2 separate regions of the Homo sapiens genome follow, and region 1 is linked to region 2. A link means that fine-mapping ties the variant in region 2 to the expression of a gene that starts in the linked region. Tissue or cell type: tibial artery. Region 2 holds a variant in brackets; the other region holds the start of a gene. All regions are shown on one strand. Distances are between the middles of the regions. Region 1 holds the start of CAV3 (caveolin 3). Region 2 has its middle 23 kb from the start of CAV3.

The links. PIP is the estimated chance that this variant, and not a neighbour inherited with it, causes the effect. A credible set is the group of variants that fine-mapping cannot tell apart.
Region 1: it holds the start of CAV3, and the variant in region 2 is the best candidate, but not a certain one, in a credible set for the expression of CAV3 in tibial artery (GTEx, PIP 0.51).

What each region holds. Positions count from the first base shown.
Region 1 is chr3:8,731,028-8,736,401 of GRCh38, reverse strand. It overlaps CAV3 (caveolin 3), which reads right to left and starts at 2,600. Exons shown (of 2, transcript NM_033337.3): 1 at 2,412-2,600. The coding sequence starts at 2,525.
Region 2 is chr3:8,708,573-8,713,946 of GRCh38, reverse strand. No RefSeq gene overlaps it. Among named protein-coding and RNA genes, the nearest start is that of CAV3, 23 kb to the left of the region's middle. The variant G/C (reference allele first, on the strand shown) is at 2,415.

The DNA of each region.
Region 1 (5,374 bases), 22 kb before region 2:
TCTCATCCTTGCTGGGTGCCAGGGACTGTGATAGACACTTTCAAACCCTTCATCTCATTCAATCCTCATGCTATATTTCTAACGCACAGTGCTGCTTTGAGATTCGTTTACCTGGTGGAGGTAAATTGGGAAATGATATTATTCCCACTTTACAGGGGAAACTGAGTCTCAGAAAACCTAGTTGGTTTGTCCAGTGTTATCATTTTTAGGTAAAATGGACTGGATTTGAAATCAAGTCTATTAAAGTCAAGTCCAGGACTATTCCTGCTAGATGACACTGATGGAAACCATAACTAATAATATTTTACAGGTACAATTTTATTTACATGTATATAGTGCTTTACAGTTTGTGAAATTTGTTTCCTAATTTTCCTCATTTCAGCTTTCACACTGTGCTATACTGTATACTCTATCTCCATCACTAACGATGTATAGAAATATAATATCCAGTATAAGAAGAGCTGTGGTGGAGGAATGCCCTGAGTGAAGCAGGGGGACAGAAGTGGGAGCAACTAATTGCCTGGAGGAGTCAGGGAAGGCTTTCTGGAGGAGGTTGCATTTGAGTTGGGCCTTGAAGGCTGAGTGAGGCATTCACCACCTGGAGAAGAGAGGACAGGCACTTCTGGCAATGGCACAGGAATGTACTCTGGTGGGTGGGCTGGCAGGTGGGAGCCAACCAGGCAGAAGAAGCAGGTTGGGGCCAGATTGTGTTGGGTTTGGACAGCCACGTGGAGAGGCTAGGCTTCTCCAGCATGGGAGGTGCCCCACTGAAAGACCGCAATACAGGCCTGTCTGATCCAGTGGCCAGGAGCTTTGAGCGCTTGAAATGTGGCTAGTGAAACTGAAGAATTCTAGATTTTGTTTAACTTTAATTAAAATGTAAACCCCGATTTCATTATTGAAAAATTTTTGCAGAATGTTTGAAACAGTACAGGCATGCGAATCGATTTTCACATGTACATTTTATGAAATCTAAATGCAGAACAAGCATTTCGGATGAAAATGTGGGGTCTGAACTGAAATATACTGTGGGTATAGGAAGCACACTGGATTTCAAACTTGAAGACTGTACAATAGCTCATTGATAATTGTTTTATATTGCTTACATGTTGAAATAATACTATTTTAGATATATAGGGTTAAGTAAGAAATATCAGGAACATTAATTTCACCTGTTTGCTTTCGCATTTTAAAATGTGGCTGCTAGAAAATTTTAAATTCCTTGTGGTAACAGTATCCCTATTGGACAGCACTGGCCTGAGATTCCAATGCTTTCAGTAGGATCTGAGAGGCCTCAGACACTGGCCTCTTAACAGCCCCTCCAGTGACTCAGATGCTGGTGGCTGGGGACCCTTCTTGGAGGAATTCTGCTTTAGAAAGGTACCTCTGAGCCAGTTGTGGAGTCTTGCACCTGTAATCCCAGCACTTTGGGAGGCAGGAGGATCACTTGAGCCCAAGAGTTTGATACCAGCTTGGTCAACATAATGAAACCCAGTCTCTACTAAAAATACAAAAATTAGCTGGGCATGGTGGCACTCGCCTGTGGTCCCAGCTAATCAGGAGGTGGAGGAGGGAGAATCACTTGAGCCTGGGAGGTTGAGGCTGCAGTGAGGCGTGAGTGTGCGACTGCACTCCAGCCTTGGGGACAGAGAGAGACTGTCTCAAAAAGAAAAAAGAAAGATCCCTCTGGGTACTGGCTGGAAGTTGGATTGAAGGTGTGGGCCTGGAGGCAGCAGGGCCGCTAGTGTCACCAGGAGGCGAGGGAAGAGGCCCAACTTCAGACGCTGAGAGACTCCCTGAGGGCTAGACAACCCCGAGCTTTCTCTTCGAGGGTCCCGGGTGCCGTCTGCCCTGTCCTGGCCACTAGACCTGGGGTGAGGGGGTAGCTAGGGGAGGGCTGGGCATGGCCCTCGGCCTTGGGGACAGATATTGGGCAGTGCTCTGGGGGAGTGAGTGTACCTCGAGGGGCTGCCGGCCCTGCTGGAAGCTGCCCTCTGGGGATTAACCCTGCACCCACTGGAGAGACCGCAGAAATGCCCCTTGGCACAGAAAGGAGCCCAACTTGGCCGCCCGTTCCTGTTCCTCCCAGGGTGAGAGCCAGGAGTGAGTGGCAGGAGCGTCACAGTAGTAAGGAGGGATTTTCTTTGTGACTCGCTCCTCCTGCCCTGATTAGCACTTAGGTCATGGAGATGAGGCTAATTTTTTGCTCTTGATTTTGCTAAAGATCCTTCGGTGATTTAGAAGCCTTTTTTTGGGGGTGGGGTGGGGTTGGGGGGGTGATACAGAGACAACAGAGCAACAAGTCTCTTTTCAGGGAAACTGTGTCTGCAGCAGATACCCTCCCCTGCCAAGCGCCCACGTCTCGCAAACCTGACACTCTCCGCCCGCCGAGGCAGGCCTGCAGAGCCTACCTTGACTATGTCCTCGTTAATGTTCTTGGGGTCTCGGTTCACCAGGTCAATCTCCTTGCAGTGGATATCCTTGACGATCTGGGCCTCGAGATCTGTGTGCTCTTCTGCCATCATCGCAGAGCTGGGGGGATCCACAGGAGGAGATCCGAGCTGTGTGGCCGGCTGGGGCTGAAAATACTTGGGGCAGAGAGACCAATTCAGTGTCCCCAGACTTATGTCCCTGCCAGCTAAATAGGCCCCACCCAGCATGCCGGCTGACAGCTGTCCCACATAACTTCAGCCTGCCTCTCTCTAAAGCCTCCTGTGGCAGGCCTCCAAGCTAAAATTAAGACTGGAGCTCTTCTGGAAGGCCGATCGCTCCTTAAAGGGGGCTGCCTCAGGGCACTGGGCCTCAGGAGAGGGTGCAGAGGGCCTAGCGTTTCCTATGCATCGTGTGGCTGTGGCCAACTCGGCGGTCGCTCCGGGGCCCCTGGAATTTGCCCCACTGCTGTCAGCATTTTGGCTCCTTTGGGGTGCACTGCCCGTGGAGGGAAGTGGGGTTAGTCCCTCCTCTGCCTCTGGCTGGCTGTGTGACCTTTGGCACACTTCACCTCTCTAGGCCACTCTGTCCCCATCTGTAAAATGGAGAGATGATAATAACAATCAGGGCTCTCCTACCCAGGGAATGGCTTCAGGAGCTGGAATGCGATGTAGTGGGGCTTCTCGTTGGATTGCCAGTGCCTGGCCCTGCTGCTTGGTGACCTGGAGCAGGTCCGAGCTTTGTGGGTTTCTGAGGTTTCCACCTGGAGCAGGAGTTGATGGACTGTGGTGTGGGGCCAGGCTGGGGATGAAACAGGGAGAGGAAGCTGCTGTGGGGCTGCCCCTCGTCTGCCGTCTGGAGCCTGCACTGGGATATGCCCGGTGGGGGGAACATGAAGTCCATGTTCGTGCTACCCTTCACCCTGCCCTAGTGACAGCTTCCAGGATTTTCTTGGGTCCCAGACACTCCACATGCATCAGTGGGGTGCACCTCTCTTAGATACCTGCTCGGTTTTTCTGTGCCCTCTTCTAACTCAGCCTTCCCCTGGGCTCCAGCAGCATGAAGGATGGCAACTCTGAATCCTCAGGGGTCAGGGTCTGTGCTTCCATTTACCTGTCTATTCACTCCTTCATTCAGGATTTGCTAATAGCTGGGGATAAACAGACCAACAAGGCTCTGTCCGCCTTGAAGTGCTCCCAGTCAAGGTGGGGAGACTAATTAAAACAATAAGTGATTATAATACTGTGCGGTAAGTGCCACAGATCAGAGATATTTTACAAAGAGCTGGTCTTAGAAGTCCATAGGAGTCAGTAACTTACTCTGAGGACACCGGGGAAGACTTCCTGTGGGAGGTGGCTTTGCAGATAGGTATCGAATGACAAGCAGGAGCTCAGCACCTAGAACACTTCAAGTTACAGGATTGTGGATATTGAGGAGTGGTATAGACAGGAATGTTGAAAAGTGTGGAGTGGCTGGAGCACAGGGTGTCTGGGGTTGAGGCAGGAGATACAGCTCAGCTCAGGCCTGGGTGTGCAGCATCCCAAATGTCATACTAAAGAATGTGGATTTTGTCTAGGGGTGCTGGAAAGCCATTGAAGGCTTCAAAGCAGGACAGGGTCGGTATCAGATTTGTGTGTGAGGAAGCTCCCTGGTGGCCAGGTGGAGGGTGGATTGGAGCTGGGTGAAGTTTGAGGTAGGAGGGGGAAAACCAGAGGTGATTTAGGCTTTATCAATAATTACACCTGGCTAGTAACACAAAGGATGCAAAAGTAATAGTGACTTGAATAAGGTAGGAACTTTTTTTCTCACTTAACACAAGTAGTTCAGAAATATTATAGTGGCTCCATGATGTCTTCAGACATCTGGACTCCCATCCTTCTGTTCTGCTAGCCCGAAAGCCACCTCATAGGCACAAGATGTCTACTGCTCCTCCAATCATCATCTCTGAGTCTGGATAAGAAGAAAGAGGAAGGGGCAGGGACAAGAAACGACATCTGCGAACTGAGTCGGCTCTGTTATAAAGCTTTGTTAGAAGTCCAACCCAACTACTTCTGTTTATATCTCATTGGTCACTCCTGTCTTGGCAAACGATGATGGAACTGTAGGTTTTTTAGCTTGAGCACATTTTCGGCACCCCCACAGTGTTACTAGGGATAAATGGTGGGCAACCAGAAAACTGTCCCTAAGTCGCTTAGGATTAAGAGGTAACTTTTTTTGTTGCTTTTCCATTCCCTTGCCTGGGTCCCCAGGTCCCCCTGGTCCCAGGTACATGAATATTCTGCAAAGAGATTGTAACAAAAAAAAAGAACATTGCTGCTTGTATTCACAAGGGACGTGGCAGGGATCTAAGCCTGAGCTTAAGCTTTGTGCACCGTAGAACCAGATATGTCTGGTGAAAGGTGGGCCAGCTAATGGCAGTCTTGTCGCCAGGGATGGAAGAGCCACCTAGAAGAACTCATCATCCTAAAGGGGAAGTAATAATAACGACATAGTAATAATGATTATGGAAGGCCATCTTTTCCAAAGATGATGAGATTGACACTCCTTCCACCAAGAGGGAGGGTCTGTGTTCCCTCCCTGGCTGGCTTCCTGGCTCTCTCCTCTCAGGATTCTTGCTCTTGGACCTCAGTCACCACGCTGGGAGGAAGTCCACACCAGCCTATGTGGGAAAACCACATAGAGAGGAGCTGAGGCTCCAGCTGTCAACCAACATCAGCATCAGGCATGAGGGTGAACAAAGTTTTGGATGTTCCCAGTCGCCAGTCTTCAAGTCATCCCCAACCTTCCTGTCTTCCAGCTGAAGCCTCAGACACCATGAAACAGAGAAACTGTCTTCTCTGTGTCCTGTTTGAATATCTAAACCACACAGTTCATGATCATAATCATTTTTTTATGTCACTGGAATTTGGGGGAGCTTGTTTCACAACCATAGTCACTGGATCAA
Region 2 (5,374 bases):
CTCCTCCTGGGATACCCAAATTAAGAAACTCTCTATTCTAAGACCTGGCCACTGATTCCCCTTTAAATGCTCCGTTGGTACTTTTGTCCTCTCCTTGTGACAGTAGACCTGTTGGAATATATCCTCACTGTTGACTTGGGAACTTGGATTATTTCTTCCTGGGCAACCCTGCCACCAGGCCATCCCAGTTCCCTCTGGCAGCCCAGCACACAGGGCATTGACCATGCATTTAGAACAGTGGATCTCAACCAGGAGCAATCTGGGGACATTTGGCAAAGGCTGGAGACACTTGATTGTCATAGAGGTGCTCCTGATATCTGGTAAATAGAGGCTGGGATGCTGCTGGACATTCTATTCTGCACAAGACAGCCCCCCACAACAAAGGATTATCCAGTCCCACAGTCAGTGGTGCAGAAATGGAGAAACCCTGTTTTAGACGATGGAAGCCTGTATCCCTGGCCTGATTCTTGGGAGTCCCATGCTCCAGGACAGACCATCAACAACAGAAGCAGCCCTGGAGACTCACCCAATGGCACCCAGCGAGGTAGCTGGGGATGGAGGAGACCCATTTCTTGCTGAGAATGTGCCAGCATCTTTGAGGTGCTAAGGAATCAGCTGGGAGGAATCTCAGAGAAGTAGCACCACAACCAGATAAGTTTTAGCTGCCTGATTGTACAGGTGTGAGTGGCAAACTCAAGATATTACAAGTTATGTAAAGGAAATAGCGCATTTTCATCTGCAATGGAAAAACGGAAGCTGCCTGATGGAGCAGCTGTGGCTGTAGCAGCCACCACCAGCCCCAGGCTTGGCTACTGTGGGAGGCTCCACTATTTGCATTTTTATGAATCTGGAGTTAAAGTGGCTGTGAAGATCAACCAGGACAACAGGCCAGAAGGGAGGGGGTACAGTGAAAGCCCATAGAGCTAGAGAGAAGAGACAGTGGTTTCTGCAGGAGCTGGGCTCTGATTTGGCTTTGTTTTCTCTCCCACCATGGCTTCAAGCTCCTCTCCACCCCTTGTTGACCTTCTGGGCTGAGCCTCCAGCCTTCGGTTCTCGTTGGAGAATTGGAACAGACTCAATTTCAGGCTTAATTAAGAAAACCCACCATAGGGCATCCAGCAGGAAGGGCCCCCAGGGGCTGCCTGGGGAGGTGGAGGTATGGTAAATATCTGGGTGCCAGCTGCTTGGGTGTGTCCGTATGTGGGCATTTCTGCAGCTGTTCATGTGTTACACCAGCACTTCTCAAACGTTTGTGGGCTTGTGACTCACCAGAGGTTCTTGTTAAAATGCAGATGGTAGGGCCTGAGACTGCATTTCTTCCAGGCTCTCTGGCGATGCTCCATTTCAGATCACGCTTTGGACAGCAAAGTGTCACACTTCAATTAAAAAAAAAAGAAAGAAAGCCCAGCCCATTACAACTTTAATTTAATTTCATTTTCAGCACCAAGCAATCTCCTCTCCTCAGGTGAGGCTGCCCCTGCTGGGAACTGAAGCGGGGAGGGCTGTGGTCTCATCATTCAAGTTGCAGCTTCTTTTTTTTTTTTTTTTCTGCCATGGCGTCCTGGAAGAGGCCGAAAGATGTTTTCACACAGCCAGTGCTGTCTGGGACTGCTCTTTGTGGGTGGACAAATGGCTGACACCCCAACCCAAGCTCCCCTTGGAGAATGCTCTATAAGGACCTCTGTCCAACCCTCCCCAAATGCACTCTTGGTCTAATTGTTGGTCCTGGCCCAGGCTACACACCCCTGGGACTCCCAGAGTCTGGCAGGCTGCCCTCCACAGAGTACTGGTGCCTGGGAATAGGCACATACCCTGGGTGTCTTAGTCTGCTCAGGCTGCCATAACAAAATACCCTAGACTGCATGGGCTTAAACAACAGAAATTCTATTTCTCACTGTGCTGGAGGCTGAAGGGCCAAGATTATCCAGGAGCTGGCCAGGTGGTTTAAGGTGAGGGCTCCATTCCTGGCTTGCAAACAACCACCTTCTCATTGTATCCTCAGGTGGCAGGGAGAGCAAGTGAGCTCTCAGGTGCCTCTTATAAAGACACGAATTCTATTGGATCAGATTCCCAATTTTGTGGCTTTAATTCAAACACAGTCACACTGAGAGTTAGGGCTTCAACATAAGAATTTGGGGGAGATGCAATTTAGCCCCTAGCATTGGGCACGTCACACTAGCAGGCTGCTCTCCTGGCTCTGCCGTTGTAGGCGGCTCCTGCCAGCCACCAGCCTTAGGCTTACCTTGCATGACCCCATGCCCCACCCCCACCCCCCCAATTCCTGGACACTAATATTAGGCACCATCAAGAACTCCATGAACTTTGTTGACACTTGGGGTGGCCTTTGGGAATCTGCAGCTCAGTAGAAATCCGGCAAGGGAGAGGACGGCTACGTCCTCATCCTGCAAGCCCTC[G/C]CCACCAGCCTACCCAAATAGTTATCCTGGGCTTCCCCTCACTTGGCTTGGGAGGCAGAGGAACGACCCCCTCTTCTCGCACCCATAGGGAAATGCTGTGGTACTTGCTACCGGAGCAAATTCCCTCCAAAAATCTCTAGCCTTCCCTTACAGAGGTAATGGCAGGTGATGGGTTTGACAGTTAAGTATCCCATTTGACTATCTTTTAAATAAATAAGCACTTACATAGCACTTGCTAAATGCCAAAAGTTGTTCTAGGTGCTTTACATCTTATTTAATCCTCATGGTACTCCTGTCTGATAGCTATGATTATTAACCTTATTTTACAGATGAGGAAACTGAGGCTCAGGGAGGTTAGGTAACTTGCAAAAGTCACACAGCTTGCACATGGCAGAGTGAGGATCTGAATCCCAGCAGTCAGGCCTGCAATCACTGCTCTCTGTAGCCTCTCAGAGGCTGGGATGTAGGTGTTAGCATCTCTCTCAGAAGAGAGGAAAATGAGGCTTAACAGGGGAAATAATGTTGCTGAGTTTACATAGCTCCGAAGTGGCAGAGGCCAAATTCTAACTTGGGCCGATGACTCAAAATCCACTGCTCCTCGCTCCAGGGTTATATGTTAAACGTGTCTTTCTCACCTACTTCCCCCACCATTTGGACTTTTGAAAACTTTGAAGCACAATCAGACATAGAGAACAGAACTACTTCCCAACAGACTGTAATGTGCGTTCCTTAGGATGGAGGTCTCTGGGGATCTGGGAATGAATTCCTTGGATAGGTTTCCAGAGGAACTATCCCTTTAGAGTCCTAGAACAAGGATGAGCAGGGATTTGTCCTTCACACACTTCTCTGGAGCTCTTGTCAGAGTGAGAATTTTCAGAAGCCTGGAGCACCCAGGCCACCCAAGCCCCCATCTTTCCTGTGCTCTCTACTGCCTAGCACCCTACTCTCACACCCCTGATACTCACACCTTCCATCCTTAGACTTGACTCTTGACAAAAGGACTCTGGCTTTCCAGAGTCTCAGATTTTACAGACAACTCTGAACCATGCCGTCCTCTGTGACAAGCCCTCCTAACAGTAATAACAACACCAGCTGCTAACAAATAGCATTAAAGTCTCAGCTCACCAGACCTGTAATTCAGCTCCCTGCTTCTTTACTCTGTTGATCATTCTAAATTAAAATAAGACAGGCCGATTGCCAATTTAAACCTTCTAAAGCATTAGCTCATGACCATTTAAAGGTGTGACATCACCTGGCCCCTGGTAGAGGCTCTGTAAATATTTGTGGAACTAATGGGTAAATGGACTTACGAAGGACATTTGAACAGAGGATCCTGAAAGACGCCAAAGCCTTCCCTAGAATTCATCTCCGGTGGTGGCATGACAGCCACTGTGGTTCAGGGAGCTGGCGGAAGTTCAGCAACCTCACCTCCCCACCCCAGGCCCCTCTCCCACCTTGCAGGCTGAGGCAGCTTTTGAATGATATAATAAGTAGAAGTGCTTAGCTTTATGCTGGGCTGTGACAGCTGCCACAGATGGCCACCTGCTTCCTCGGTTCATGGGCCTCCCTGCCCACAGGAGGTGCATGACATGTCCTCAGTCCCCTGACACCATAGTCAACACATCCAAAGCCCTTCTGCTAATTTCTGGCTGAAATCCAGATGGCCAGCCCACTCATCTGGCCATTGTGGACTGTCTGTCCCAGCCTATCCCCACATGACACCCAATCCGTCACCTCAATTTGCACACCACCAACTCACTAGCACTGAGTACTCATCACCCTAATTACTGTCATGGAAGTTGTTGGTGGAGTCGCTGAAGGGGTTACTTCGCCAAACCCATGCCTTCCTCCCATCTGCTCGATCCTCTTTTCTCATTTTACTTCCCTTTGGGGAGCAGAAGGATGCATTTCCTCCTTGGTTTCCACGTGGAATCATTTCTTCCCTTCTGCCCCAAGTACAACTTTAACATCAAGCATTTATCAAGACTTTCCAACCAGGCCTTCTCAAAGTGTGGTCCCCAGACCAGCAGCATGAGCATCTCCTGGAAGCCGGTCAGACATGCAAGTTCTCAGGCCTCACCCCAGACCTACTGACTTGGGAGCTCTGCAATGGGGACTGGCATCTGTTTTAATGTCCTGCAGGGGATTCTGACTGATGCTCAAGTTTGAAAAGCTTTGGTCCAGACAGCAAGTATGCTTTCCCTTGGGAGATTTCTGGCGAATCAAAACGTCTTCTTGTTAAGAAAGTTTCAAGGGGAGTTGGGCTTTGTGGGAGGCAGCTCAGCTTCTTCCTATTCAGCCAACAGAGCGTGGACTTCGGAGTCATCCTGCCTGGATTTTGGTCTTGCTGTCTGCGTCTTATAGCCTGTTCAGCACTGGGGAGGGTGGTTTACCTCGCTGGGCCTAATTTTCTTTCTCAAATGAGTCTTCATTTTACCTTTTCTCAGGACTCTTGTGAGTCTCAGGGGAGATTGAAGACATGGAGGTCCTTTATAAACCAGAAACCTGGGGGTGGGGGTAGGGGCTACCGCATGATCTTTAGGCACGTCCCAAGGTGGGGGCACCAGTGGTGTCTCTCTCTCTCTCTTCCTCTGCACAATCTCTGGGTGCTGAAAGCCTGGGTCTTCTGTTGACGAAAAAAGGAGTTGGGTGTGGGGTGCAGGGCCTGTTGGGAAACTGGGTTTGAAGACAGTGAGAGGCATGCTGAGCATGGGCCAGAAGTCTCCCTCCACACCTGACCTCAGGCTCCCTGGGCAGCTGCCCTGACCCTGCAGGTCACACTGTCTAGGAACCCTGAGCTGAAGGGAGAAGCAAAGAAGAGTGTAACGTGGCACTGTGCAGCATTCTTCCCATATATTACCTCATTCATAACCCAGATTGCAGGAAAAGGAGAGAGGGGAGAAAGGAGAGGGTAGAGGGGAGGGAGGAGAGGGATAATACACTGCTCCAGATTGCTTGAT